4 linked regions of the Homo sapiens genome follow. The protein of the gene in region 4 interacts with the protein of the main gene of each other region in a biochemical or structural test. Each region holds a gene or a part of one and is shown on either strand. Other genes may lie near its edges.

Region 1 (8,994 bases), on a different chromosome or scaffold from region 4:
CCACCTAAAGCATTCTTTTCATTTCATTATGCTTTATGTGACCATTTTCAACCTCTTCTCCCTCTCCCCATTTCTTAAGGTTGAATGGTCACTGGTTAGTATTCATTTTTTTCTTCCGACAGACCCATGGGCCATGCTAAAATAGGTTCTTTATATCAAGATACTAGCTGTCACATAGGTGTTACTGTCATTGTCCATTCCAAGTAGGTCTGTGTGTCACTTCAAAATCCTTGCCTAATCATTTACTTTTTTTTCAGTAAGTGGTCTGGTAAGACTAGTCTTTCTCTAGACCCTGTTTGTGATAGAACAGTAAATACCCTTCACTGTAGAGTAAGTCCTCAATGGTAGCCTTGGTGATGATGGCATCATCACAGCTGAACCACTGGTCCTTTTGTTGCCGGATGAAGCTGGTATAGTGGCCACTTTCCAAAGTTCCATGGTGATTAATCACTGCAAACAAGGAATACTTATTCTCATTGGGCACACAATCTGTTGGTGGCTGGCCTTCTTTCATTCTGCTCTCTTTAGTAGAGGCCAAAAACGGAGTCATGTCCAGCTCCAAGGGAAAGGAGATAAAGGTATTAATCTTTCGCCTCTGTTTGCCTACATGCTCAAACCGCTTGAGATGAAAACAAGCCACAATGGGTAATTTTTTCATTGTGAGCTGTTTAGTAGACTCCTGGTAGCTTTGGCAACTATTGCATTTGATTTTGGCACTGCTTCCTAGGTGCTCTGGCCTTGTAAACCACTGTAGACAGTCTGTAAGTGAGGGGATTCCTGGTATGTGGTCATCCCTGCTCACTGTGCTGTCAGCCCTCTCTGGGTTCTGGGAATCGAATGTGGCACAAGAGCCAGGCAAGTCCAAACTGATGTCCCAGCATGGGTCTATGGTGGTAGAAACACTATGGCAGGCTTGACATGTGACATCTGATTGCAGGCCACCTGTAAAGATTTGGTCTATGATGCAGTTACAGCAGTTGGGGTTATTGGCCTCCTGCCCACCACTATCATCTTTGCTGTGTCTATGTAGCACGTCTAATATTGCAATAAGGAACTCATGGGCATCCTGCTGCCTGTACCCTGCTAAATGTTCTGCATGGATCCATATCAGATGCAGTAACTTATAGGGAATGTGAGGAGTTCGGCTCCCAGAGTACATAGCATGAAAAAGCGAAGACATTTCACAGACCAGACACAAGCTGGGGCTTGTCATTATACATTTGTGCTTGTCAGAGAGGAAGAAATCTTTCAGTAGAGGAATATGGGTAAGTGCCTGGACAATACAATTCATAAAACAAGTGTTCCCAAGATTGATTAGCCCTCTCAGGCCTACAGTATAGACTGACTTTTTTCTTCTCTTTTTCTTGGGTTTCACCAATTTTGGCTCCTGTTCCTTTGTCTCACAGGTTGATTGCTTGTCTTCAAACCCTGATGTCATAAACTGTTGATGAGAAACATCTGTTGAGGTGGAAGTTAATAATCTCAAAATTTTTTCTTTTGTTTCTTTGGCAATCTGTTCTATGTCTTTGTCATATACATAATCCTTACACATGAAGCAATATATGACCCCATGATAAAGGTCTACAGCTAAATGGTGCTGCTTTGTTTCTGCATGTTTGTGAATATGTTTCTCAGTGAAGCAGCCAAAAAAGACACAGGAGAGACAAGAGTGGAGTCTGTTCATATGGGTACTACATACGTGACAGATGCATGACTTTGCTTTACGTTTCCTAGTCTCTGGGGTCCCACTCCAAACGAAACGCTGGTAGATCAACCTCAGGTTCTTCTGCCAGTTCTTACCTACTTTAAAGCTCTCCACATGAGAGCAGCCTGTGGGACCCTGACCAAACTCGACCTCCAGCAACCAGTCCCCTAAGCCGCCAGGATCCCCCGACCCGTCTAGGTCACCAGAGCAGCTTCTCCGTGTCTGAGGCCTGGACCCAGGCCGGGATCTGCGCCGGGATCCACGCCAGGCCCTGGGCCGCGGTGCGGGTGGGGGCGGGGGTGGCGGCGGGGGCGGGGGCCGGGCTGGAGGCGGGGGTGGGGCCGAGAGCCCAGGCTGGCTGCGGGAGCGGGCCCGGGGCTGGGGCCGAGGGCGGGGCTTGCGGCGCGGGCAAACGGGCGAGGAGCTGCTGTGACAGCGAAGGGGGATTGAAGGGAGCACCTTCTCGTCGCCGCCGCTGCTGCTCCACGTCAAGTTCTCCTCCGGCGCGGGCTCACGCTCTTGTAATGGCTCCAGCTTCATCTCCTCGGCTTCACGTCTCGAAGACGCCTTCGTAGCCCCCGCCGCCGCCTCCTCCATTTTCCCCGCCTTCTCAACCGCCTCCTCAGGAGAGGCTCCTCCCCCACCTCCGGAGATCCAGCGGACCCCAGAGCCGGAGGGCAAAGAAGTTTCTCGAACCTGGGCCATCAGATCACTCCCCGACCTGAGGAGCAAGGCGTCTGGAAAACAGCTGCGACTGTAGATGAAAGGAGACAGAGACTTCTGTGAATGATCTGCCCAGCGTCATGGCCGCGGTGCGCAGTTAGCGCCCCCAGGACCCCTCCCATCGGCCCTTGAGCTCAGCCCGCGGCTTCTGTCGGCTCCACCCACTCAACTGAGAGGCCCCTGGAGCTGATGGGGAGACCGAGGCGGTTACCTGCTTCAAAGGCGATCAGATCATGCCAGGGGACTGGGAACAGAAGGCTAGCGAGCGGTGGGGGTGGGGAACGGCCTGAGCTTTAGGACAGAAAGGATGGAAACTTCTTTAAAAAAGGCGCCACCCTCTGACTGCTTTTTTGCGCCCTGCGCAGCCTCGCTTTGGTGCAGCTTCCTCTGACGTTCTTTCCCTGTATCCTAAAAAACACTTGGGTCAACATTTTCTCTCCAAAATGGCTGAAAGGACGCACTTTTGGAAAATGAACTCACAGGAAGAAAGTGTCCCTCTGTTTCTACCTAACCTATACTTCTGTGACCCGGTGTGTTCCACTCTAAGCCGTTGCCCCTCAGCGCACTTTCGGTCCACCCAGCTCTTGCGCCCTCTCACGCTTTTTCGCGCTTGTGCTCTCACACCCCTTTTCTTGCTTCTGCGACTTCAATTCCTATGATTTCTCCTAGAATTCGGATTACTACTCCCTCCCTTCACGCATTTGCCACCTCTATGGCCACCACTATCCTCGCGCGACCCCCGAAGTCTCCGCTCCCTTTTCCCTCTCCTGCCCCCGCAACACCCCCAGCCCGGCAGTTTGTTTAAAGGTCTGGGTTACCTTGGGCCCCAGGCGCGTGATATAGAACGTCAGCAACTGCTGCTGTCCAGGCGCTCCTCAGCCAGCCTTCTCTCCTGACCTCTCCTCAGGGCTGGTCACAAGGGGGCCGCCCCCTGGCCCCTCCCCTCTCGACGTGCGGCCCCCAACCCCGGATTCTGCCCTCCTGCAGTGATGAATGGCACCGCTGTCCCGCGCAGGCAGGCAAACCTCTTCCTGAAACAGACTCTGCTGGAGGCAACAGCAGCAACAGATTCTACAGAAAGCCCCTGAAATGGAGGCTCAGGCCTCACCTAGCTCCAGGCCCGCACTCCACAGAAAAAAAGATTCACCCGGCGTGGGGGTGGGGGCTTCCAGAGATGGCAACCCTCTGGCAGGAATCCCTCAGGATCCTGTCAGAGCCTGGTCTCTGGGAGTTGACGGAGGGAGGGAGGGAGAGAGAGAGAGAGAAAGAGAGAGAGATTATCCCAGAATGTGCAGGGGAGGAAGCATAAGCAAGGGCTCAGGCTCAGAGAGACCTGAGCCCAGGCACATGCTTGCTGTGTGACCTCGGATAAAACACTTAACTTCTCTGAGCCTTAGTTGTGTCAATTTTTAAAGAGAAATTGAAATAATAACCCTAGCCCAATGTGAACACTGAGTCATAGTATATATCAAGTAAAAGACCTTTTTGGCGAGCTTTATCTGTCACACCTCTTTTTTCAGTCCGCTCCTGAAAATCAGCATAGAGAACAACTCCTGATGCAGAGTAGAGGAGAAGAGAATGCCTTTCTCTTTCAAAGCTCTCTCAAAGTTATGGCTCAGTTCACCCGATCATCCATCCTAGGCAGTCCATATACAGGAGCATGTATTCAACAAAGATGCCATAGGTGCATTATAGCGCTAGATTGTGCTGGGAGAAGCACAAGATACAACTGTTTGTGTCCTGAAGTCCATACGCCAGGAGACTTTTCCTTTTCTTTGACAGATCCGGCATCCAAGGCGACAACCCGGAGGAAAGCTATCTCCAGGGCTTGTTGCCCTTCCGGTCCAATCCCAAGAAAATTACGGTTTATTACAGCGGATGTTTAATGCTACATTTAATCTCTCTGAGAAAGTCACACACCTCCCCTCAAAACCTCACGATTAGGATTCAGCTCTCTTAACTTGGCAGTGGCATCTAGTGGATACCTCCGCACAATGGATATCACTGATTTTGTGACTTGGTTTAGATTCGACCATATCTCAGTCACATACTAGCACCCGGAGGGAAAGTGCTTTGGAATTATAGACTGGCTTGTGCAGGAAAACGTGCTTTTTCTCCCCTAGGGAAGGGCATTTTCTCAGCCACAGCTAAGCAAAGAGTTGCTCCACTCTGGGTTAGCAGCCCTAGAAGGAAATGCTGAGTCAGTCATTTGCTAGCTGTGCCACCTGTGGCTTGGATCCCAGCTGCTCTGAGACAGCCCTGCACCCTTTATGCAGGCAGGGAGGCAGGGCACAATTTATAAATACTTCTGTCTTCTGAGCCTTCGCTTTCTCCTGTGCAAAATCAGAATCATGAGAATGCCAGCCCTACCTAGATTGGTTTATTCAGCAGATATGTAAAGAGCACCTACTGCTGCACTGGGCACTATGAATATACAGCCAAACAAAACTGGGCACAAAAGCAAGTAAGCCAGAGTCCCTGCCTGAGGTCCACATCGGGAAATGCATAGGAATGTGCTGTGAAGATTAATGTTAGTTAATAAAGGCCTAAAAACCACTCGTAATCAACAACTTAATATTTGGGAGGTGGGATTGTTACAGTGCTTCAAAAAGTTTCTGAAAACAGTTGTTATTGAGCTAGACACGCCTTTAAATCAGCCCACACGCTATCGTGACCAAACAAACGATTTCTTCATTGACAATTGTCCTGTAGGAAAACCTCAGGACAGCGTGATGGGTCACTACTGTCAAAATGAAAATGAATGGGTCTGCATGGTTTAGGCCTTTCTGGAGTTCACTGGTTCCTCCAAAATGAAGCTGCGTCTAACCTTCTGGTGGACTTAACAGACTGCTAGACCCCACTCCCAAAGTTCCCAGTTCAGTGGGTTGGGTGAGGCCCAATAATTTAGGTTTCTAACGCTGTACCAGCTGATGCGGATGCTGCTGGCGTGGAGATGGTACTTTGAGAACCACTACTGTGGGATAATGTGTAAAGAAGCCCAGGTCAAGGCACTCTGGCCTTGGTAGCAGGAGCCATGTCTGATGGAGCTGGTTTCCCAGGCCTGTGTTATGTTGGCGTCTCTTACAGATTCTAGCTGTGGCAGGTGTGGCAGGGTCCTTTGGGAGTGGGGTGGTGTATGAAAGAGCAGGATTGGGAAAAAGCCTGCCTCTGTGCTCCTGGTGGCTCGCTCAGTACCTTGAAAACTGGACCCCTGAAGCCTCACACAGCCTTCTTTCTCCCAATCTGGGCCTCTTCCCCTCAATGACCTCGCTTCTCAGAGGCCAGCATCCCAAAGGGCAGACTTGGAGCCATTACCTGCCCCTGACTAGGGCTGCAGGGAGGGTGCCATGGACTGGGTTCCAGTCCTTTGGGGCCCACATTTGTCTGCCCAGCCTCCTGCCCCTGTCCCCTCACTGGATGGATCCCCTCTTCTGTTCCTTTTCTTCCTGTGCTCCAGCTCGTAGCTGGTCTGCCTCCAACCTTCTGAAGCAACAGCCTCAGACACCACTGGAGTGTGCCCTCTCCTGCCCACAGACCCATGGTGACTCCCTGTGGTCTCTTGGTTAAAATGGAAACTGCCCAACTTACTCCAACTCCCCCCCACCCCCACCCCTGAGTAGGTCCAACCTCAGCTTCATTTTCTGCTTTTGTGGGCTCCAGCACTTCAACCACAGAAGCCTCTGTATTGTCCGTGCACATGAGATTACATATGTGAAAACATGCGGCCTGTCAGTCCATTGCCTTCCCTTTGCCCTTGGATGTTCATTTCAAAACATCCCCTAGAGTAGGTGTTTTAGTTGGGGTTCTCCAGAGGGACAGAACTAATAGGATATATGTATCCTACACACACACACACACACACACACACACACACACACACACACACACGTATATGTATACATATGAAAAGGAGTTTATCAGGGAGAATTGGCTCAAATGATCACAAGGCGAAGTCCCATGATAGGCCGTCTGCAAGCTGGGGAAGAAAGCAGCCAGTAGTGACTCAGTCTGAGTCCAAAAGCCTCAAACGTAGGGAAGCCAACAGTGTAGTCTTCAGTCTGTGTCCCGAGGCCCAAGAGCCCGCCTGCAAACCACTGGTGTAAGTCCAAGAGCCCAAAGGCTAAAGAACCTGGAGTCTGATGTCCGAGGGCAGGAGGAACAGAAGGAAGCATCCCGCACGGGAGAAGGATGAAAGCCAGAAGACTCAGCAAGCCAGCTTGTCCCACCTACTTCCATCTGCCCTGCCTTACCCGTGCGGGCAGCCAATTGGATGGTGCCCATCCACATTGAGGATGAGTCTTCCTCTCCCGGTCCACGGACTCAAACGTCAGTCTCCTCTGACAACACCCTCACAGATGCACCCAGAAACAATACTTTATCAGCTATCTAGGCGTCCTTCAATTCAGTCCAATCAAGTTGACACCTAATATTAACCATCACAGTAGGGATCCTCAGCCTTTTGGTGCCTTGGATCCCTTTGATATCCTGGTACAGCCGGTGGATCCCTTAAGACAATGATATTTTTAACATAAATATATATAACTAAACACACGGGATTATAAAAATGCATTGTATGGAGATGGCATTTTGTACTTTTAGAAAGATATTGTGATGTGAGGAAATTTTTTTTTTAATTAAACCTTACATAACTATCACAAGATGGGTATAATAACTACCATAGTTTCAAAGTAGTGCTGAGCATAGGTGATACTCTGAGAAATGTGAAAGAAGTGTAATGTGATACCGAAATTTTTGTTGGCGACACAGTCACATGTAGTACTACTATCAATGGAGTTTCATGCCTAGGCTCATAGTTTTAGGACATGATCACTGTAAGTTAGAGGTGGGTGAAAATAAAGGCGCAGCTCTTTTCCCCACACACATGCACAGACCTCTCTCTGACTAGGCTTGCTTTACGATGCCCTGAGCACTTTGCCTGCTTAGTGGGCCAAAGAATTACAGACCATTTATTAAGTGCATATCGTGTGCTCTTTTCTCTTTCTTTTTTCTCACAAAACTTTGGTATGCCCTATTTATGAAGAAGGAGAGATACAAAAACAAAGAGCATTATTTCAAAATCATAAATGTGTTAACACTTAAAACTGACAGAATTAAAGAAAAAAATAGAAAACCCACAATCACAGTTGGATATTTTAACACTGCTCTTTCAATAATTCATAAAACAAAAGGCCATAAGTCAATAAAGATATAGAAGACTAAACAACACTGTGAACCAACTTGTGGTAATCGATAGTTATGAAATACACCACTAATGTACACCATAAAATACAGTCTTCCTTCAGTATCTGCAGGGGATTGGTTCCAGGACTCCCGTGAATACCAAGATCCTTGGATGCTCAGGTCTCTTACATAAAATGGTATATAGTGTTTGCATATAACCTATGCACATACGCTCGTGTACTTTAAATCATCTCTAGACAACTTATAATACCTAATACGATTATGTGAATATGGTTATGCTGTATTTTTTTTAATTTGTATTATTACTTTTTATTATTGTATTGTCATTTTTGTTTCTGTTTTATGTTTTAAAGTATTTTCAATTGACGGTTGAATCCACAAATGTGTAACCTGCAGATATGGAGGGCTGACTGTACACATCTTTTGAAATGTGCTTAGTATTCAGTAAGATACAGGAACTGAGAAACTTTTTCTTAGAAAAATAGTAAATATTTTAGGTTTTGTAAACTACTCAACTCTGACGTTTTAGTATAAAAGCATCCATAAATAATGTATAAATAAATGGGTGTGACCGTATTAAAAAGAAAAAAAACCCTTAACTGACAATAACAAGCTGCCAGCTCACAGGGCGTACTTTGCCAACCCTAAGATACACTATATTCTAGGACCATAACACAAGTTTTAACTAATTCCGAAGGAAGAAAATCATACAGAGTACATCCTCTGTTCACAACCGATTAGAAATCAATAATATTTAGATACATAGAAAAGTCTCCATTATATGGTGCTTAAAAAATCACATTTCTAAATTACCCACGAGTCAAAGAAGAAAGAGCCAAACCTGACACAGATAAAAGACCAATAAAAGACATTGGTCTTTTATTACCAGAAAAGACCAATAAAAGACATTGGTCTTTTATTACCAGAAAAGACCAATGTCCCTCATGAACCAAGATCCAAAAATTCTCAATAAAATATTAGCAAATTGAATCAAGCAAGCTATAAAAGGATATTATATAACGATGAAGTGATATTCATTAAAAATTACAAGGCTAGTTCAACATTCAGGAATGAATCTAATTCATTCATGACATTAACAGAACAAAGTGATCATCTCAACAGATTCAGAAAAAAAAGTATTTTTCCGAATTTAATCTACATTCCTAACTAAAACTTAACAAAAATATTAGAAAACTAGGAATGAAAGGATAAAAGTGCTCTATAAGGTATATGATTTGCAGATATTTTCTCCCAGTCTTTGGTCATCTTCTCATTCTCTTTATGATAATTTTTAAAGAACAGAAATGTTAAATTTTTATTTTTAACTTTTATGGGTACATAGTAGCTGTATGTATTTATGGGGT
Region 2 (8,078 bases), on a different chromosome or scaffold from region 4:
GCCCGGGAACCAGAGAGCAGCCTGGCCTTTGAAGGAGACCCTGTGGCACCCCCTGCCCACCCCCAAGTCCAGCCATCTCACTTCACTGGAGATGCTGCAAAGCATGAAAAAAAAAAAATCCAGTGTTCTCAGGTCAGCCTTCCACCAGCCAGGATTCATCGTCTGATCTGTTTGGGGAGAGAGCATGGGGTGGTGGAGATGGGTTGGGCCCCAGTGTTTTCTGATTAACTCGCAGTTTACCTGAAACATTTTGGTTTGTTTCCTCCATGAGGAACTCACTCTAAACCCCAGCATTGTCTGTGTTTCCTGAGGAGTCTGAGGGAGCTCTGGGGTCCTATTTCCTCTTTTGGATGAGGCTGTGAGCATGGTGGATTAGAGACAGCCCCTTAAAGTTAGCCCAGATATCTCAGCAAGTTTTACGCGTCTCTATTTGGGGGAGGGATTCGCCTATTGAAAACAAGAGACCAGCAAGGGTCCTTGTGAATTATGATGGTTTGGCGTGAGAATAGATGGGATGGATTGGCACTGGAGTCCCCTTTTATCTTAGGCTTGTCCCTGAAGAGGGCTTGTTGATATCAGAACAGCCAATTTCCTGACAGGGTTGGGAGCAGGGGATGGGTGCTGTTAACCTTTGAGATGTCCGTTGTGGAGGGAGAGACAGGATGAGGCAACCGTTGGTGGCGCCTGGGTCCTGAGGAGGGAGGACCCTGGACCTGGCGTTAGCGAGGCGTGGTGATGTTTGCGCTCCCAGGTTGCCAGGTGCAAGCTGTCTGTGTCCACATTTCTGCCCTTCATTTGCCCCTGATTGGCACAGGGAGCCTGCAGGAGGCGGCCGTGCCTGCCCAGGCGCCCTTCCTCCCCAACTTCTCCGTCCTCAGCCTTCTGCTCTGCTGGACCATGGAGGAGGGGGCTGATAGGCCCGTGGCCCTGTTGGACTTTGGCAGAGGAATATCACTTCATTATCCAAGTGCCTCACAGAGATGAGAGCCGGTGGAGACCCGTCCTCACTCGCCTTTGACCCCAGCTCCCGGTACCCTAGCAATTGGGCACATTTAACCGTGGGTCATCAGCTGATGGAGCTCATGTCTTTACTGGCTTTTTTCCCCAAGCTTGCCCTTGTTCCTAAATGGAATCTTGGGGGACCCCCTCCCCACAAGTACGTTCTTTGTGTGTCTGGGCCCAGTCAGGCCCAGATAGCTTCTCTTCCACGCGTGCCCGTGTTCTCATAACCCCATGGCTGTTCTTGGAGCTGCTCTGCCTCTCTGCCCTCTGCCTTCAGGTGGAGAATGGTATTGTTGAGGCACTGAGCAAGGCCTTTCCCCCCTCCTCCCATTTTTCTTCTTTCTCATCTCCTGACGCCTTCAAATTAAAAATTTAAGAAGGGGTCTGGGTGCGGCGGCTCACGCCTATAATCCCAGCACTTTGGGAGGCTGAGGCTGGCGGATCACGAGGTCAGGAGATCGAGACCATCCTGGCTAACACGGTGAAACCCTGTCTCTACTAAAAATACAAAAAATTAGCCAGGCGTGGTGGCGGGTGCCTGTAGTCCCAGCTACTCGGGAGGCTGAGGCAGGAGAATGGCGTGAACCCGGGAGGCGGAGCTTGCAGTGAGCCGAGATTGTGCCACTGCACTCCAGCCTGGGCGACAGAGCGAGACTCCATCTCAAAAAAAAAAAAGAAAAACATTTAAGAAGGGGAAAATTCCTTGCTTAACCTAAAATGTGGCCTTGAGGCCTGGTCACCCTGTGCCATTGAGACCTGGGGTGTGAGGTTCATTCACGAGCCTCTGGTCTCCTGGAAGGGTCTGGTCTGTTCATTCATGAGCAGGGTAATTAAATAACTCTTTGTAAGAGTCAGGGAGCTCCTTGCTAAGTGGTCTTCCCCAGTTGGAGCGCAAACACAGGCTGAAGTCCTCTCCTTTCTCAACACCCACCTCCCCCTTCCCTTTAAAGGGAGGATTTTATGCTTTAAGGGAAATGGGGAAGGTTGGGGGGGGGCAACACCTTAAAGGAATTTTAGGCAGATTCAGCATTTTTCTGGTGTTGCTCCAAAAATTCCCCACACTGTAATAAAAAGATACAACTGTGAGCAGGCATCTGATTAGTGAGCTTTTTACAACACAGCTTTTCTTTTGGATGCTTTAAAATGAACACATACTGTTTTAAAACAAGCCCCTGTACAGTTTTCTGGGGAGGGGGAGAAGTTTGTGGAAAATACCGGAAAAGGTTATAAAGCTGAGGGAAATTAACAAAGGACTGTGAGTTTTGCCTTCAGAGGTTAACTATCAGCGAGAGGCCAAGGCTCTTCCTTAGTCCTTGTACTGACTGAACTTCCCAGCCCCTCGACACGTGGCCCGGGAAGTCCCTGGGAGCAAAGCGTCCACACAGACCTTTGTGGGGAGACTCGTGTGGGCTGTGGGCCCGATTCAGGGAACTGTGTTTCTGTGAAGATGAAGCTGAGCATTTCCCAGAAATGAGCCCAAATGGCGGGGAATTCAGGGCAAAGGGGAATCTCTGTAGTGGCAATGGGGGATGTCGTGCGGGGTCCCCAGAAGGTGTGATGTCCACACAAGGGTGTGTGTTCGAGGGGCCTTTGCTGTTGCCGAATGGTTTTGCTGGAAAGCTTGTTTTTTGTGTGTGCTTAGAGATAGTCCCGGCAGGAGGAGACTGGAGCTGTCCTAACGGGAGGACAGAGGCTGCTGGTGGGGGAGCTGGAGGGGACAGCGAGGGAGGAGCAGGCAGGAGTCTCCCTGCGGTGGGTTAGGGCACCAAATGGACTTCAGGGCCCTTGTTCACACACAGCAGCATTCACGACATCCATGCATTGCAGTTTTTCTGGGCTGGGCCATTAACCTCAGCAGAAAAATGCTTTTTCCAGGGGGTGTCTGGCAGCACATTGCTGGCGGGCTGCACAGATGAAACAGAAACCCACCTGACACTTCCCCGTCCTGCTACAGATCTCAGGCTCCAGTCCCCACCCAGCTTCCTCTGCCCCCAGAGGCCCCCACCCTTGGCAGACAAGGCTTCCACCCCTTGCCTAGGTGGCTGACAGGCCTGGCATGGGGGCACCTCGATCTCAGGTCCATACTCCACTCACTCCCTTGCTCCTCCTCCTCCTCCTCCTGTTGGCCGGTGCCAGGTTTCAGTGGGTCCTGGCTGCATGAAACAAAGCATTGTGAGGCTCTGCTGAGGGTCTCCCACCCACCCTCCCTCCCGCCTCCTTCCCAGCAGCTCCTCGAGTCTTCCTTTCCAGGCCAGGTTTGTTGTCCCGAATTGGGAAAATAAGCAAAAGCTTCTTGTGTTTCAGAACACCCTCCTCCACACCAAAAGGGTGGATGTGCTGTGCCTCCCGGAAGAGGGCTTTCTCCCCCGCTTCACACTTGATGCCAATGTGTCCTTCCTTCCCTGGGCGTTCAGGTCTTTGGTGTAGCCTTCAGAGCTGAGTTCCCTCAGCAAGAAAGTTCAAAGATTGCCAGCGCTCACAAGTTTATTAGCAGTTGATGGATACTTTGCAGAAACAAGTGAATGCCTGATGAGTCACCTTCTCCCTGTCCCTGTCTTGTTTTCCATATGTTCCAGTACGTATGTGCACACAGAAACACACATAACACACACTCGTACACACTGACATCATGGACACAGTCTTGCACACGCACATGCACAAGCACTGGACTTCCAAGCTACATGGGGGGTGGTGACCGGCCAGTTTTCTGGTGTTGATTTTTAGTGGGGGTTGGGGGTTGAGGGAAAGGAATGAGACCTCAGTGTCCCCTTTTTGTGGAGCTTTTGGGGCAGGCATTTGGGAAGGCCAGCTTGGGGTGTCTGTAGGGAACCGCTGCTCTGGGTGTGTGTGTCTGTGGCTGCCCCAGCAGGCCGCAGTGTGCACATTTGTATGGCCTTACTGACGGGCACCTCCATCCAACACTGGCTGCTACTTAAAACAACAACAACAACAACAACAACTGAGTGGAGCCAGTGGGTTCCCAGGTCCTAACACGCCTGTAAAAGTTGGAGCCAGTTAGTGTCCTGGGCTGCCCCAGTTACCCAGCCTGCTGGGGCAGCAGGATGCGGCCCCATCTTCCGCCATGGACCCCCTGCAGGGTGCAACCCATCATCATTGACTCTGAACCCAGTTACTCCAGAAACACAAAGGCCACACCAAAACACATCTCACACTCAACCCCTGCTTTGTGCCCCCCAGGTCCCCAAGAGGAGGAGCTGGGGCTGCAGGGAGCGAGGGCAAGGCCCTGACCGACGTGGGGCCCTTCCCCTCTGCTTTTCCCCCTCTGCTGTCCCCATTTTTGTTAACAAATACAAGACTTCCGGTCTCCACCCTGCTGCCACAAACCACAGCGTTCCTGCAGTCTGGCTGGGCTGGGGAGATTTATGGTCCCAAGTCTGAGGCCTGCCCGCTGGCTCCTACTTAAGGAGGAGTCAGAATGCCCGCCGCCGGGGCTCCCTTTCCCTCCGTGTGACCCCCCTTTTAAAGTCCTCCAAGTGCCTGTTGAGGAAAATTACCTTACCAGAATCACCCCGGCCCCCAGGCTGCCTGTGGGAAGACTGTGTAGGGAAGCGGGGCGGGGCCTGCAGGGGAGGGATGAGGGCGGAGCAGGGCGCCCTGCAGGCTCCAGATGCTTCTGTGGAAGGAGGGGAGAGAGGGGGCACCCCTGGGGATGGGGGTGCCGGCAGAGAAGGGGAGAAGGGGGACGCATCTATTTGAGACACATAATCTTCTGTCTGGGCTGGAGGAAGCTTTGTTAAGGTAGCCCGGGTTAATACCGGTCTGCATGTTGTGATTTGGCATTTTGACATGAATTCACCCTTTGTGTACAGGGCTGCTGCTGACACACTGAGACTGTTTTCCTATTAGGAATATAGATGTTTTTGTCCCAAGCCACCCTCATTTTTATTTTTACCAGATAGGTTCCTCATGACCACGGCACTGATTTGAGAGCTGGGTGACAGGCACCCAGAGACCATCGCATAGGTGGTCCCAGAGTCTAGACACCTGGGTTCTAGCTCTGGCTGTGTCATCCCCTGGTACTCCAGCAGCAGGCTTTCTGGGTCCTGGTTTTCTCATCAGGATGACAAGGGGCTGGAGGAGCTGGCCTTCAAGGTTCCATCCAGTTGAAAGATCTGTAACTCCAGGACGTTGCTGAGGCTTTTTGAGGCCCTAAAAGCAGACTACCCAAGCTATTAAGGGTCCCTTTGCATCTGTGCTCTGCAGAGAAGAGGCTTTGTTGGCCAGGTGGGCACAGATGCTGGTGTACTGGACTCCTGATGGGCAGGGGCCTGGAGAGAAGCAGCACCCAGCGCTTCCTATGCTTAAAGAAAGGCAGGGTCCTGGTCAAAGGGCTGTAAGAGCCTGGGCAAGTCCAGGACTAGCCTCACCGCCTCCTTCTTTCTGTCTCGTCCTGAGAGATGAGCTGGTGACTGGGTGCAGTGGGGGGGCGGGTGTCTTCATTCTAGGAGTCACCAATGCCTGTCCCCACTAACCCTCTCTGCCAATGTGTTTTCTAGATTCCCAACTTCTTCTGGAGCCTGGGGATCGGTCACACTGGTGCGTGGTGGCATACTGGGAGGAGAAGACGAGAGTGGGGAGGCTCTACTGTGTCCAGGAGCCCTCTCTGGATATCTTCTATGATCTACCTCAGGGGAATGGCTTTTGCCTCGGACAGCTCAATTCGGACAACAAGAGTCAGCTGGTGCAGAAGGTGCGGAGCAAAATCGGCTGCGGCATCCAGCTGACGCGGGAGGTGGATGGTGTGTGGGTGTACAACCGCAGCAGTTACCCCATCTTCATCAAGTCCGCCACACTGGACAACCCGGACTCCAGGACGCTGTTGGTACACAAGGTGTTCCCCGGTTTCTCCATCAAGGCTTTCGACTACGAGAAGGCGTACAGCCTGCAGCGGCCCAATGACCACGAGTTTATGCAGCAGCCGTGGACGGGCTTTACCGTGCAGATCAGCTTTGTGAAGGGCTGGGGCCAGTGCTACACCCGCCAGTTCATCAGCAGCTGCCCGTGCTGGCTAGAGGTCATCTTCAACAGCCGGTAGCCGCGTGCGGAGGGGACAGAGCGTGAGCTGAGCAGGCCACACTTCAAACTACTTTGCTGCTAATATTTTCCTCCTGAGTGCTTGCTTTTCATGCAAACTCTTTGGTCGTTTTTTTTTTGTTTGTTGGTTGGTTTTCTTCTTCTCGTCCTCGTTTGTGTTCTGTTTTGTTTCGCTCTTTGAGAAATAGCTTATGAAAAGAATTGTTGGGGGTTTTTTTGGAAGAAGGGGCAGGTATGATCGGCAGGACACCCTGATAGGAAGAGGGGAAGCAGAAATCCAAGCACCACCAAACACAGTGTATGAAGGGGGGCGGTCATCATTTCACTTGTCAGGAGTGTGTGTGAGTGTGAGTGTGCGGCTGTGTGTGCACGCGTGTGCAGGAGCGGCAGATGGGGAGACAACGTGCTCTTTGTTTTGTGTCTCTTATGGATGTCCCCAGCAGAGAGGTTTGCAGTCCCAAGCGGTGTCTCTCCTGCCCCTTGGACACGCTCAGTGGGGCAGAGGCAGTACCTGGGCAAGCTGGCGGCTGGGGTCCCAGCAGCTGCCAGGAGCACGGCTCTGTCCCCAGCCTGGGAAAGCCCCTGCCCCTCCTCTCCCTCATCAAGGACACGGGCCTGTCCACAGGCTTCTGAGCAGCGAGCCTGCTAGTGGCCGAACCAGAACCAATTATTTTCATCCTTGTCTTATTCCCTTCCTGCCAGCCCCTGCCATTGTAGCGTCTTTCTTTTTTGGCCATCTGCTCCTGGATCTCCCTGAGATGGGCTTCCCAAGGGCTGCCGGGGCAGCCCCCTCACAGTATTGCTCACCCAGTGCCCTCTCCCCTCAGCCTCTCCCCTGCCTGCCCTGGTGACATCAGGTTTTTCCCGGACTTAGAAAACCAGCTCAGCACTGCCTGCTCCCATCCTGTGTGTTAAGCTCTGCTATTAGGCCAGCAAGCGGGGATGTCCCTGGGAGGGACATGCTTAGCAGTCCCCTTCCCTCCAAGAAGGATTTGGTCCGTCATAACCCAAGGTACCATCCTAGGCTGACACCTAACTCTTCTTTCATTTCTTCTACAACTCATACACTCGTATGATACTTCGACACTGTTCTTAGCTCAATGAGCATGTTTAGACTTTAACATAAGCTATTTTTCTAACTACAAAGGTTTAAATGAACAAGAGAAGCATTCTCATTGGAAATTTAGCATTGTAGTGCTTTGAGAGAGAAAGGACTCCTGAAAAAAAACCTGAGATTTATTAAAGAAAAAAATGTATTTTATGTTATATATAAATATATTATTACTTGTAAATATAAAGACGTTTTATAAGCATCATTATTTATGTATTGTGCAATGTGTATAAACAAGAAAAATAAAGAAAAGATGCACTTTGCTTTAATATAAATGCAAATAACAAATGCCAAATTAAAAAAGATAAACACAAGATTGGTGTTTTTTTCTATGGGTGTTATCACCTAGCTGAATGTTTTTCTAAAGGAGTTTATGTTCCATTAAACGATTTTTAAAATGTACACTTGATTTCATGTTGTCCTCCAACTCCTTTTTCTTCTGCTGCTTGGAGGGAGTGGGGAGGAGTGAGTATTCATCCAAATTCAGTTGAGTTGGCGTCTTCCCAGCCCAGTGCTTGGAGGATGGGAGACGTGGGCCACAAAAGAGACATCTAGAACAGCCCTGGTCTTCAAGAGTGCTGGAAAGACCTGCAGCCACCCAGACATCCCTCCTTCTTGTGTCTTGAATTTGTAATGGGAGACAACCTACAGGAGCTCTGTGGGTGATAATTCAAAGCTTGTAGAATTGAGGACAGGGAATTACATCTAGGGTAATGGGAAGGAGACAGGATTAGAGGATGGATGGATGGAGAAGTTTAGCCCCAAGAACCTGGGTCCATCTGGTTCTTGCCAACTCCTCACTTGGTATTAAATCCTAAGCCTACTGTACCCCTGCTAGACTGGATTCCAGGAGAAGTTTCCTGGGGGCTGAGACCCTGGAAGGGTGATGAAGGTGGGGGTTGAATGTCAG
Region 3 (6,530 bases), on a different chromosome or scaffold from region 4:
AGTAAGACCATGTCTCTAAAATAATAAAAATTCAGCCAGTTGTGGTGGCTCACACCTGTAATCCCAGCAAGGCAAACACAAAATAGTTTGCTGAAAGGTATGAACTGGGTCTTTGGAGGGAGGTATGGGGCAGGGAAATGTTCCTATTTGTAAGAAGCACTGTAGAAAGTTTACCATATGTGCAAGTAGAGTTATACAAAATGAAAAACTATGAATATAAAAAATAAAAAGGGAAAATTTACATGAGCCCACAACTTAGAGAACAGAGAGGAAATATGCTCTTTGCCACTAGCGTAATTTTACAGGTAGTTTCGTATAATCCTCCCTTTTCCATCTTTAAGATGGCAATTTAAAAAATCAGAAAGGACTGCTGGGCGCGATGGCTCACGCCTGTAATCCCAGCACTTTGGGAGGCCGAGGTGGGTGGATCATGAGGTCAGGAGATCAAGACCAACCTGGCTAACATGGTGAAACCCCGTCTCTACTAAAAATACAAAAAAATTAGCCGGGCGTGATGGCGGGCGCCTGTAGTTCCAGCTACTCGGGAGGCTGAGGCAGGAGAATGGCGTGAACCCGGGAGGCAGAGCTTGCAGTGAGCCGAGATGGCGCCACTGCACTCCAAACTGGGAGACAGAGTGAGACTCCATCTCAAAAAAAAAAAAAAAAAAAAAAAAAAAAAAAAAAAAAAAAAAAAAAATCAGAAAGGACAAGAAAAACAGTTGACTGTGTTAGGATGCAAGGCTGAATCTCTGCACATTCTATTTCCTCTGAGGCAGTGCTTATTTTCCAAGGAAGAATTTTTGGGTGTGCTATACTGGAGGTCTCCCTTCTCAGGGAGAGTCATCACTTGCTCCAAAACGCTGGACCTCAGCTCAAGGGCACCACTGCAGGAGGAATAAAAAGGTGGAGCCACGCAACAACTCGTCTGTGTTCCGCAGTAGGCTCTTTTTGAGGGACTTCCAGAAATGACAGCATGTGTGCAGAGAACAGAAAGCAAAGTTACACTGTTACAGAAGGCACAGAAGGAAAACCTTCGGCTACTGCTATCAGTGGAATTTCTCTGTAGCCAGACTGAGGTCTGGTGGCATTTGAGATATAATATAGATATAGACCTACAAATACAGATCTCCAGGCTGTTCATTCAACAAGTCTTTATTGAGCACCTACTCTGTGCCCAGCACTGCACTAGGTGCCATGAGAATACAAGAGTAGTATAAGATGTTATCCGCCCTCCAGGAGCTTACAAAACTAGAGGCAGAAATAAGATGTACATGTGACTCAGGCAGCATGTGACACACACAAAGTGGGCAGCTCTGAGACAATGGTGGTCAAGTGACCACTGAGGCCCAGAGCCGTTGGAACAGTCTCTTAGAACAGGGTGGAGGACTTAAAACTTGGATGAACAGGGGCTGGCAGAGCACTTGGAATGGGTAAGGACAAGACTGGGAGATCAATTTGGCTGGAGCAGGGGAGCTTGTGTTAAACTGTGATGATGAGGGGCACCTGGACAGAGGTTGGGTCCGTGGGCAATGAGAAGACATGTTACTCCCTCTCTTGACATGAAGACCTGGTGGGCTTGTGGCCTCCTGCTGCCTTCCTTTCCCTGTCTTCCCATCTCCACTCTCTCCTAGGAAAGTGGAACCTGGATGCTGGTAGGGCCAGAGACAGAGGCTTAACACCCTGCTGGGGAACCCGGTCAGAACTCCCGAGGCAGGAGAGGTTCTGCTCCACTGGATGTTTGTCTTGGTGTTTTTGGATGTGCTGATCAAGAGCAAGATGTTCTGGATTCTTAAAACTCCCCTCACAAGGACCAATCTAGAGATAATTTATTGATCAGTGATCACAGCTTGTACCCCAAAGCCGTGTATGTCTGGATCCTTCCCTAAGACCACAGATAGCTCCAGGGAGTCCCACCTCCTTGGCTATGGAAATATGCTCAGCCCTGGTTTCAGAGAAGCCTGGACTCCACTCTGGACCCCATGAGATGATATGCGCTGGTACTCCAGGCTTTAAATGGCCTGGGAAGCCTCAGTGGATTTTGTTTATTTTCAGCATTGCCATGTATGCTTAACTCTGAGTTGGGGTGGGGTAGGTCTGTTTAAAATGCCAGGGAAGGTGGGCAGCAGAGTGGATTTGTGCAAGAAGGAACCTGGGGGGTTTAAGGACAGCAAAATGATCTTAGGCGTAATTGACTGGTTTTTCTGAGGTCTTGCCACACTGGGCAAGAAAATGCTGCATCGGGCCCTTATTCCAGAGAGTGCAGAGCTGGGGCCAAGGTCGTGGTCAAAAAGGAAAGGAGCCCTCATGGACTCCAGGGTCAGAAGTTCCCTCGGGAAACCAGCAGGAGGTGGGAAAAGAGCCCCATTAGGGCAGTAGATGGAGCAACAGCACTGAGTGAGATTTCAGGGGGCCACAGCAATGGGGAGGTGGCTACCAGTGGATATGGGGTCCCCTGCTCCAGGTGCTTAGGCCAGGCATCCCGTCCCCCCATTGAGAGTCCTGGAATTCCAAAGAAGTGAAGCATCTGAGGGTTGGGGCTGGGGGCAGATGTCAGGGCTCAGGGTCTTAGCAGGAGGCGTGTTCCTGGCCACTTGAGCCACAGGAAGGGGACCAGGCGCCGGGTGAAGGTGGCAGTGAAGGTGTAGATGAGTTCCTGTGACTCTGCGTTGGTGAAAGTCACGGTGCCCCCTTCATAATCCAGGGCGATGCCCACTCTCCGGGGCCGCAGTGCTGGGAAAAGCTCAGCCTCGGGGCTGGTGTTGGCCCAGATGCCGGAGGAGGAGAGGCGCAGCGCCCACACGCCATCCTCTGGCCGCAGGGAGAGGTCTCCCTTCCTCTTCACAGAGTCTCTAGCCACCCCCACCATGCAGCTTTCCAGAACTTCCTCCTCTTCCTCCTCCTCTTCTTCCTCTTCATCGCCCAACGATTCCTCATCTTCGTCCGTTTCCCAGTCGTCATATCCATCCCCATAGCCGGCCTCCTCTTCCTCCTCCTCCTCTTCTCCCTCTTCCTCCTCATCCCCCTCTTCTTCATCCTCAGACCAGCCCTCCCTCTCCACTTCCACTTCCCAGTAGACCTTGCCCCAGGTGAAGCCCTTGCTGCCTAGCACCCCAGGCTCACAGTCAAACTGCTGGGGGTGCAGGTAGGCACTCTTGTACAGGCTGGTGTAGGTCACGCACTTCCAGTCCTCTGACAGCTGCAGGTACCCACTGGCCGACTGTGGGTCCAGGGTGACGCTCACTGTGGGGACAAGGGAAAAAAAAAAAAACAGCATCACTGTTTTGTTTTGTTTTTTAAGTCAGAGGGAATAAAATTTATTTTGGCAGATAGCGTTAAACAAAATTAAAGTTGCATACATTAGTAATATAACTCAACATCCTTAATTTGGTATAAGTGTGACACATTTTCTGGCTTTGTATTCTGCTAAATCACCATAACTAAACTGCTTTATAAACATGATATACTGAAATTTAACTTGACTGTTTTCGCTTACGCTCTGATTCCAAACAAAACTTTTCATAAGCTTCCTCTATCTCTGGATCTCTGGGTCCAACTCATCATTAATATCATCCAAGTGTGGATCACCAGTCCCTGAAAAATCTGTTCCATTTTCTTCATAATCCAGAAAAAAAGTCCTCTTTTTCAAGTAACTCTTGATATGCTTCTTGGTAATCCGGATCAGCTGCAGTGAAAGGAACACTATGAAACACAATAACTATGTGAATGACCACTATAAAATGTTGGTTCATTCACATAGTAATTGGGATCTTTTTTGGCTGTTGTATTTCTGTATGATGAAGTTGCATGGACTCTACCCCAATTACTGCACTGGGGTTCTACAAGCTTCAAGAGCATCTGTTTCATGTCTCTGCCACAGCTTGCATCTATAACAACATTTTCAATTTCCTGAATAATTTCTTCCATATCAGTCCTTCCTTTTCCTTCCAAGAATCTTCCAAAACTGACCCTGTCAACTTCAGCAATTTTATTGCACAAATTAAGCTGTCATCCACGGGATTAGAAAAGAGGGCATTCAGGCATTCGGCAACTCCTGAAGACCAACCTGAAGAATATCTGCCCTTGTAACCTGTCCATTTGTTCCTCTGATCTCCAGGTTATGATAAAGCTCTCCCAGAAAGGGTACAAATGCATGAAATTGTTTTGGAGTAACTTCATCCCCTTTTGCAGCTTGATCTTTAATGTCATATTCAGTCCGACATCTTTGAAGTAGAAATTGGCGGAAGGTGCTACTCTCTGTGCTAACTGTCAGATGATGTCAGGTAATTACACAGGTGAGCTCCCATGTAAGAGAAATTTGGGGCTGGGCACGGTGGCTCACGCCTATAATCCCAGCACTTTGGAAGGCCGAGGCGGGTGGATCACAAGGTCAGGAGATCGAGACCATCCTGGCTAACATGGTGAAACCCCATCTCTACTAAAAATACAAAAATTAGCCGGGCATGGTGGTGGGCACCTGTAGTCCCAGCTACTTAGGAGGCTGAGGCAGGAGAATGGCGTGAACCTGGGAGGCGGGGCTCGCAGTGAGCTGAGATCACACCACTACACTCCAGCCTGGAAGACAAAGCAAGACTCCATCTCAAAAAAAAAAAAAAAAAAAAGGCCGGGCGCGGTGGCTCACGCCTGTAATCCCAGCACTTTGGGAGGCCGAGGCGGGTGGATCACGAGGTCAGGAGATCGAGACCATCCTGGCTAACACGGTGAAACCCCGTCTCTACTAAAAATACAAAAAATTAGCCGGGCGAGGTGGCGGGCGCCTGTAGTCCTAGCTACTCGGGAGGCTGAGGCAGGAGAATGGCGTGAACCCCAGGAGGCGGAGCCTGCAGTGAGCCGAGATTGCGCCACTGCACTCCAGCCTGGGCGACAGCGAGACTCCGTCTCAAAAAAAAAAAAAAAAAAAAAAAAAGAAATTTGGGACAGATGTGGCCTCTGAGTTCCACAAGTTCTTGCAAAGCATCATCTGTTGTAACACAAGCATTCAGGGTCTCTGTAAACTGTTCAATTTCAGTTTCAAAACTACCAGCCTGCTCTGTAAGATGGTTCAAGAAACCCTGAACAGGTACTGACAGAGTGGGATAATCCTCACCATCATCCTCATAGGATTCTCTATAATTAGAATAACCTGATAGGTAAAATTTGACGGTATTCACAGACAGCTCAGACATTAATAAAGAAGCTACAACCACCTAAGGTTTAACCACTGCTAACTCAGTTCTGCTATGGGATTTTATCCTGTGAACTAGATGAAGCTCTCAGGGCCTCGTTTGCTCCCAGACAGGCCGACCTCCTCAATGGTTCTCACGAAAGCAAGTGTGAAAGTGAGCCAGGAGGAGACCACCAGTCTTCACAATCCAAGGGGCACCATTCACATCTTGGTCTATGTGGATGGCGCTCCTTGGTGGTTGGTATGCAGTGTACAACCTAACTGCAGGGCTGAGAGGGGGCACAATAGTGGGGCCTGTGGTGGATATGGCCTCTGGTCTTAGGTTGCCCCTGCTGTTTGCTCTGAATATAGGAGCCATGCAGCCAGGAAGATGAGAGAAAGCTCGGCCACAGGAAAAGGACTGGTGGTAGGACCTGTGAGGATAGGAAAAAGAAAAGCAAACACAGGGCAGAGAAGGATCAGACTAGCAAGCAGAGGCCTCTACTGCAGACTAAAGAGTAGGCTGATTAGAAAGTGCAAAGAGGGAGGGGGGCTTCTATTGTGCAGCTGGGAAATTCTTCCTGTTGCAAAAGGGGCTACCTGGGGGAAAAGTGAGCAGTCAGAATCTCTGCAGGCGGAGTTTTCTATATTTGATGTACATCTGGGAAACACCCTCTAGACACTCACCTGTCTTATATTCCAAGTCTCTCAGCAGCTTCCCTGGGGAGAAAAAAGGACAGCAATGACTCAAGTCCCGAAAATTTATGAGCCCATTTCTTGCTCGGGCAGTATCAATTTCCTGATAGGGATCCATGTCTAAGACAAGAGGCCCTCAGAAGAGTGAGGATCGACAAGGTGATGGAAAGGAGCTGGGTGCGCTCTTTCTACGAGGTAGCCCTGCTCTGACTCCCACCCTTTGTGCGCTCCCCAACCCTTACCCTGGAATTCCCTCAGGCCTCGTTGCAGAGAGAGGAGTTTATCTGAGAATTCTCCGGTCTTTTTTTTAACCACTCGAGCAATGGGTTTCCCAACCCAGAACTTCTTCCGTGGATACCTAAGAAGATGACATACATAACAAGCTGTTACTCAGCTCTTCTTACTTTCCTTCATACTTATCTCTCAATCCTCATGGCAATTATGAAGGGGAGAGGAAAGGTATGATTATCCCCAAACAAGTGACAGAAAAACAGTGGCCCAAAGACACCAGCTGAACCAGGGCTTCAGAACATCAGTAGACTCCACATCCAGGGCGCTCTGTCTACTAAGCCATGTTTCTAACCTCTCTGCTCTGTCCCACCTCAAATAAGGCCAGTGGGCCAAGGAGCTGGGGCTACACAGAGAACCATAAGGAGGAGAGCAAGTCTCCAGT
Region 4 (8,078 bases):
GCTCTCACCTGTTTCAAGTGCTCCTTCATGGGCTTATGGACCATAAACCTATAAAATCTTGGTTCTATTCTCCCTGATTGCCACCCTCTTCTTATTATCTTGTTATTTCATGAGTACTGTTGCCAAAGTACTAAGGAAATAGGTTGACTCTGCTCAGTCATTCTTTTTCTGTTACAATTCTTTTTTGTTGTTTGTTTGGCCTAGCCATCACCTTAGCAAATGGTCTAACTTGTTCTCTATGGGATATGTGACACATATTAGGTACATCCATAGGGCAGAGTTCAGGTATGTAGATATACATCATTCTTTGATGTAAGAAACTGGAAATGTGGCCTAACCCCAACATGTACCCTCACAAACCCTGTGTGGCTGAAAATTTATTTAATTTTTAAAGTTAGAATTAAGGCAATATTAATTTCATTGTTGATGGCTGATAACTATGAGGACCTTGTAAAAGAGGAACAACTGATAAAAGCTTTTTTGACTTTAATCCTAAATATAGAACCAGCAATTTAAATGTAACTTATAGTTACAAAACAGTCTTGGTTTATACTTCTGAAAACTGGGGCACAGTGACACAGAAGTAGAATAAACCATATAAAAATTGAGTCTTCAGAATAAAAAAATCTAAACTTTAGATTTTTAGAGGAGGCAACTCCCTTTACTACGGGGGAAAAAAACCACGTAGCTTATACTGAGAATAAATAGTAACTGGTTCAAAGAAACTTAAACTTTTTAATTTGACTTTCTTGTCAATTTGGTTAGTATAATGTGGTTTATATAGTCAGTACTTATTTTTCCTACACTGAACATTTTAATAGAATGCAATTTAACATCTTCTAAACTTGAAGAATTAACTGTTATGGCATAAGCAAAATAATTAAGTCAAGATGGAAAGGGTCTTACCTGAACAAAATACTGAGTTACCTCTAAAGTAACGTTCATATGTGGTTTTTAATCTCAGGAATGACCAGATAACTCAAATAAATAATCATTTTCACTTTTATAAGGCTGCAGATATAGCACTGTTTAGTACATTCTTTTAACTTTCAAATATATTAAAATCCTTGCCTTCCATTGAGGGCTGAGTTGTCAAAATCTGGAAAGTTAGTGAACTCTCAGTCATTGCACTTACTTGATCTCTTCCTGATTTATGTGATGTCATGTGACGTTCAAGTTGGGTTCTGTATGCAAAGGTGTAACTGCACAGGGAGCAACTAAAGTTATCTTCATTCTTTTCATGACGATATTTAATGTGTTCTTTCAGAGAGGTAAAGCGTTTATAGCCTCTATCACAATATGGACAGGTGAGTAATTGTGAAAATGCATCTGGTGTTCCTGTAAAAGAAAGATCATATATTTTAAATTTAAAACATTCAGAAAATATTACCAAAGTTTCCACTGAGTCCCTATGCTATGTTCCAGATATTGTGCTACCCACTTTATATTTGATCCTCAAAACAATGCAATGATACTCATCTCTATTTTATAAGAGAGAGAACAGTGGTTTCCAGGAAGGTTAAATAACTTAAAAGAAAAGTCACAGAGCCAGAAAATGATGAAGTCAGGGTTCAAATACGGGCTGTCTGACCTTCAAGTCCCATTCTTTTTCCCTAAACCATAATTCTTCCCTTTTGTCATGTGATTAGCTAGAAAAGAAAACAAAAGTAAAATTAGAATGTAGGTTGTCTTTGTAAGTGTATACAGATTAAAGGGGAATTTTGTGCTCTACAACAGAGTCTATTGGTAACAATGGTATGTATCATTATTTATTTAATGTTTATTCCTCTGATTTTGAAAATGAAACTACCAAGTCATCATCATCAAAGAGTAAACAGTACACACACACTATGTTTCCAAGAGTCCCTTGCAGGTAGGTGTGGCCATAGGACTGAGTTCAGACCAAAAAAATAGTGTGTAAGGTGGGGAAGGAAAGACTGATGGGGGCCAGATCTAGGCCTGCTACATAAACACATCCCATGCATGACCCTGCTTGTAATTTCCCCTATTGAAATACACTGGCAAATCTGCTATATAACTGTATATGTATGAATATATATAGCTTTTAGAAAACAAAGGCATTCTGAATAAATTAGTTTACTGAATGAACTTTATTTTTACACTTGGAGCTGTCTAAGCCTGACAATCCTAAAATGTAATATTTTGCCAATTAATATTATTTAACTAAGAGTAGTTTTCCATATTTGACATTTCTTCAATGAAATAAATTAAGTGATATCTTTTTGTAAACATCATCTCTATTTTCATTTTGAATTCACTATAGAAAAACAAACCACCACAGATAATTTCATAAAATCTCCAAGTGCTTTCTGAACATATATTCCTTTATTCAAGTCCATATAAATCAAATGTCTTGCTCAAGGACCAGACTGCAAATAATAGACTGAGCACCTGAATGTTAAATAGTTGGTCAAATATGTTGAGAGAGGGGCTTCAAGATGGCTGAATAGAGGCATCTGGTACTCACCTCCTCTACAAGGAAAAACCAAAATAATGAGGTAATAATCACACTTCACATAGATCATCTAAGAGAGAACACTGGAATTCAACAGAAAAGTGACAGGAAACACCTCAAGTAAGGAAGAAGGAAGTAAAGCAACCTGCAAAGGCTCTCCAATGCAGGGAAAGAGTAAGTGAGAGACCCCCAGGGGTCCACATTCCCACCATGGACTCCTGCAATCCTAGCCATGGGAGAACCCCTGGACCATCGTGGGCTCTGAGACTAACACAGGGAGGTATGTGGAGACCACATGACAATGCTGCTCCGGAGAGGGAGCTTATGCTGAATCTGTACACCCCCTGAGTTCTAAGTAGCTACAGCACAGCACTATTTTGAGAGCCCAACCCCCAACAGACTACATCCTGTTGAGCCCCACTGACATACCTCCCTTCCCAGTCATCACTAATGCTGGTTGCGGCTGCTAAGGCTGAAGTGCAAGCCATTGGCAGTGACCATACCTCCTCCCAGCAGAGGAGCTGCACACATTTTTACATGCCCCAAGGACAGACTCCCCAACAGACTGCTGCCACTGTGGGCTTCCACCGCTGGGGACAAAGTGCTAGCCACTGGCAGCGACCCTAATTTCCTCAGCAGCTGAGCTGCTAAGCATTTATAAGGGACCTGAGGACAGGCTACCCCATCCACAGCCGCTGTCTGGGGCTAAAGCGCACATTTCCCAGCTCCCTCCCTATGGCTGCTGCCACCAAGAGCAACCTTGCCCTCCCCAGTAAGAAGGCCACAGTGCAACCACTGATGTCCTTACCTGAGCACTCTGCTGGTGGCCTGGGATCATCCTGCCCCTGCCATGATAGCCAATGCCTACACACACCACCAAGGGGCCTGAGGACAGGTCCATCTGGCCCAGCTTACCTCCTCCCCAGTTTCCGAGCATGCTATTCAGGGACGTGGGGATGACCCAGCCCAGTCCAACACTGTTGTCACCTGAACACTCCTCCTGGAGGCCTGAGGTTGGGTCCACCCAACCTGCTACTATCACTACAGCTGGCACCCTCCTGCATGCACCACCGGTAGGCCTGGGGACTGACTCACCCAGCCCATTGCAGTCACTGCCAACACCAGCGTGAATCACTAGGGAACCAGAGGGTGTCCTGCCACTGCTACTGCCATTGCCCAAGTGACATCCACTGCCCAGGAGCCTGAGAACCTGCCCACCTGCCCAGCTTACCACTGCCACTACCAGCACCCAAGCAAGCCACCTGGAGTTCCAAGGATCAGCCCAACTGGACCTGCTAACACAAGGTGTCAATGTGCCACCCTGTGGTCTAAGGACAGGTACTGTAAGCCCGTTACTACCACTGCTAGGGCCCAAGGAATGGTCCACCTGGCATCCCTGTCCCAGCCAAACTTCACCTCAGCCTCCACTAACAATTGCACCTAAGCCAACGAGGAAATCACGGACCCTACTCACACTATTTATAACGAAAGATATCATACAGAAATTACACTACCACATGTACCCAGAATCAAAGCCAAAGTGCCCTACTCAACCAATGAAAGCAAATCCAAAAAACCAGAATAATTGACTATTATACCAGATGTGTGGTATCAAGGTAAGAATACAAGAAACATGAAAAAGGAAGGAAATATGACACCTCCAAAAAATACAATAATTATCCAGCAACAGATTCCAATCAAAATAAATTTATGAAATCCTGGAAAATGATTAAAAATAATGATCTTATAAAAGCTAAGTGAGATAGAAGAAAACAGAAAAGCAACACAAAGGAACCAGAAAAACAAATCAGGATATGAATGAGAAATTTACCAAAGAGGTAAGTATCATAAAAAAGAACTAAACAAATTCTGGAATTGAAGAATTCACCGAATGAAAGACAAAAGACAACTGAAAGCTTCAGCAATAGATTAGGTCAAGCAGAAGAAGAATTTTAGAACTTGAAGACAGGTCTTTTAAAATAACCTAGTAAGAGAAAAAAGAATAAAAGAACAATGAACAAAGCCTGTGTGACATATAAGAAACTATAAAGTAACCAAATATTCGAATTTTTGATGTGTTATAAGGCAAAGAGGAAACAAAAGGGATAGAAAACCTATTTAATGAAATAATATCCAAAAATTTCCCAAGTCTAGCAAAGGATTTAGACATCCAGATACAGAAAGCTCAGCGCACCCCCAAATAGATACAATTCAAAAAGATCTTCTCCATGGCACATTATATTCACTGTCAAAAGTAAAAGACAAAGAGATATTCTAAAAACAACACGAGAAAAGTGTCCAATCACTTGTAAGGGAACCTCCATACGACTAATAGCAGTTTATCAGCAGAAACTTTATAGGCAAGGAGAGAAAGAAATGATATATTTATTCAAAGTATTGAAAGAAAAAAACCCTGCCAGCCAAGAATATCATACCCAGCAAAATTATCCTTCATAAATGAAAGAGAAATAAAGTCTTTCCTAAACAAGTAAAAGCTGAGAGAATTCATGACCACTAGACTGGCCCTACAAGAAATGTTTAAGGGAGTCTTATCCATGGAAGTGACAGGAAGATATCTACCATAATGAAAACACATGAAAATATAAAATCCACTGGTAGAACAAGTACAAATAAGAAAGAGAAAGAACTCAAATGTTACCACTATAGAAAACTATCAAACCACAATAATAATCAGTAAGAAAGAAAGGAACAAATGATACACAAAACAACCAGAAATCAAAATGACAGAAATAGGCTCTAACATATCAATAATAATAACATAAACGGATTAAACTTTCCACTTAAAAGGTACAGATTGGCTGAATGGATAAAAACTGTGACCCAGCTATGTGCTGCCTAGAAGAAATTCATCTCACCTGTAAAGATCCATATAGACTGAAAGTAAAGGGACAGAAAAAGATGTCCATGCAAATGGAAACCATAGTGAGCAGGAGTAGCTATAATGAGATAAACTCTTAAATCCAGTAAACAAAACAGTATAAGGGGACAAAGAAGGTCATTAAAGAATGACAAAGGAATCAATTCAGTAAGAGGATATAACAATTCTTAACATATATGTACCCAAGACTGGAGTACCTGGCTATATAAAGGAAATATTATTAGATCTAAAGGGAGAGACAGATTCTAATACAATAATAGTTAGGGACTTCAACACCCCTATCAGCATTAGACAGATCATGTAGAAAGACACTTAACAAAGAAACACTGAATTTAAACTGCATTTTATACCGAATGGATGTGAGACACTTACAGAACATTTTAACCAACTACTAAAGGATACATATTCTTGTCATCAACACACAGAACATACTCTAGGATAGACTGTATGTTGGGACCCATGACAAGTCTCAAACAAATTTTTAAAAATCAAAATCATATCAAGTAGCTTTTAGACCACAAAGTAATACAACTATAGATTTTAATAATAAGAGGAACTTTGGAAACTCTACACACACATGAAAATTAAACAACATGCTTTTGAATAACCACGGGGTCAAGGAAGAAATAAGGAGGAAAATTTAAAATTTCTTTAAATGAAATTAAAATTAAAATTTCTTTAAATGAAAATCAAAACAGAACATATCAAAACCTATGAAATATAGCAAAAGCACTAAGAGGAAGTATATAGCAATAAATACCTAAAACAAAAAATAGAAACATTTCAAATAATCTAACAATGTGCCTCAAGAACTTAGAAAAGCAAGAACAAAGCAAACCCTAAATTAGGATTTAAGAAGGAAAGAAATAATAACAATCAGAACAAAATCAATGAAATGAAGACTAAAAAACAACACAAATAACAAAACAAAAAGTTGGTTTTTTTGAAAAGGTAACAAAACTGATAAACCACTAGCTAGACTAAGAAAAGAACAGAGAAGATGCAAATAAAAAATGAAAAAGAAGACTAACAAATGATACCACAGAAATACAAAAGAGACAATTATGAACAACTATACATGAAAAAACTGAAAAACCTAGAGGATATGGATAAATTCCTGGACACAGCCTACCAAGATTAAATTAGAAAGAAATAGAAAACCTGAACAGACCAATAATGAGTAATGAGATTGAATCCATAATGAATATTTCAAGTCCGGGACTGAAAGGGTTCACTGCTGAATTCTACCAAACTGTCAAAGAAGAGCTAACACTAGTTCTCCTCAAACTATTCCAAAAAACTGAAGAGGAGGGAATTCTCCCTACTTCATTCTATAAGTCCATCACTATCTTGATACCAAAACCAGAGAAAGATGAAACAAAAAAAGGAAAACTATCCAGGTCAATATCCCTGATGACAACAGATACAAAATCCTCAAAAAAATATTCACAAACTAAATCTAACAGCACGTCAAAAAGATAATGCAATATGATCAAGTGGGATTTATCCCAGGGATGCAAAGATGGTTCACCTCCATATAATAAAGGACATATATGACAGAACCACAGCATACTGCATGGAACAAGCTGACAGACGTCCCTCTAAGAAGTGTAATCAGAAAAGGATTTCCACTCCTTCACCACTCCTATTCAACACAGTATTGGAAAGTCCTAGCCAGAGCAATTGGGCAAGAGAAAGAAATAAAAGCCATCCAATTTGGAAAAGAAGTCAAATAGTCTCTCTTTGCAGACTATATGATCTAATATCTAGAAAAACCTAAAGACACAACCAAAAAACTGCAATCTGCTAAATAAACTGAAAGTTGCAGGATACAAAACTCAACATAAAAATCAGCAGTGTTTCTGTACACCAATAATGAACTAGACGAGAAATAAATCAAGAAGACCATCTCATTTATAGTAGCTACAAAAAAGTAAAATACCTAGGGATAAATTTACCCAAGAAGGTGAAAGACCTCTCCAAGGAAAACTACAAAATATTGATGAAAGAAATTGAAGAAGACACAAGTAAATGGAAAGACATCCCATGCTCATGGATCAGAAGAATTAACATCATTAAAATGATCATATTGCCCAGAGCGATCTACAGATTCAATCCAATCCCTATCAAAATATCTATGTCATTTTTCACAGAAGCAGAAAAAACAATCCTAAAACTTTTACGGAACCACAAAAGACCAATATAGCCAAAGCAATCCTGAGCAAAAAGAACAAAGCTGGAGACATCGCACTACCTGACTTCAAAATATAATACAAGGTACAGTAAGGAAAACAGCATGGCATTAGTAAAAAACAGACACACAGACCAGTGGAAGAGAACAGAGAACCCAGAATAAAATCCACATTATTAACAGCCATTTGATTTCGACAAGGCACCAAAAACATACACCAGGAAAAGGACACACTCTCCAATAAATGGTGCTGGGAAAACTGAATATTAACATGTGAAGAATGAAACTGGACTCCTATTTCTCACCACATACAAAAATCAACTCAAGATCAATGAAAGACTTAAACATAAGACACAACACCATAAAACTAGAAGAAAACATACAGAAAACACTCAGGACATTTGGGTAGGCAAAGACTTTATTGCTAAGACTCAGCAAAGGAAACAACAGAGTGAATATCTGCAAATTACTCATCTGACAAGGGACTAATATGAAGAATACACAAACTATTC

The links.
Region 1: the proteins of ZEB1 (region 4) and USP51 form a complex in vitro, tested with the Homo sapiens proteins (2 studies listed by BioGRID).
Region 2: the proteins of ZEB1 (region 4) and SMAD7 form a complex in vitro, tested with the Homo sapiens proteins (one study listed by BioGRID).
Region 3: the proteins of ZEB1 (region 4) and TRIM26 form a complex in vitro, tested with the Homo sapiens proteins (one study listed by BioGRID).

What each region holds. Positions count from the first base shown.
Region 1 is NC_000023.11:55,486,530-55,495,523, forward strand, and holds the start of USP51 (ubiquitin carboxyl-terminal hydrolase 51), read right to left. Parts: upstream 3,320-8,994; 5' UTR 3,247-3,319; exon of another isoform or gene 2,837-3,246; 5' UTR 2,640-2,836; intron 2,518-2,639; exon of another isoform or gene 2,460-2,517; 5' UTR 2,411-2,459; coding exon 275-2,410; 3' UTR 1-274.
Region 2 is NC_000018.10:48,919,352-48,927,429, reverse strand, and holds the end of SMAD7 (mothers against decapentaplegic homolog 7), read left to right. Parts: intron 1-5,519; coding exon 5,520-6,058; 3' UTR 6,059-7,577; downstream 7,578-8,078. UniProt on the Homo sapiens protein: Antagonist of signaling by TGF-beta (transforming growth factor) type 1 receptor superfamily members; has been shown to inhibit TGF-beta (Transforming growth factor) and activin signaling by associating with their receptors thus preventing SMAD2 access.
Region 3 is NC_000006.12:30,183,319-30,189,848, forward strand, and holds the end of TRIM26 (tripartite motif-containing protein 26), read right to left. Parts: intron 6,216-6,530; coding exon 6,100-6,215; intron 5,882-6,099; coding exon 5,849-5,881; intron 3,241-5,848; coding exon 2,558-3,240; 3' UTR 1,137-2,557; downstream 1-1,136.
Region 4 is NC_000010.11:31,503,933-31,512,010, reverse strand, and holds part of ZEB1 (zinc finger E-box-binding homeobox 1), read right to left. Parts: intron 1,339-8,078; coding exon 1,136-1,338; intron 1-1,135. UniProt on the Homo sapiens protein: Acts as a transcriptional repressor. Inhibits interleukin-2 (IL-2) gene expression. Enhances or represses the promoter activity of the ATP1A1 gene depending on the quantity of cDNA and on the cell type.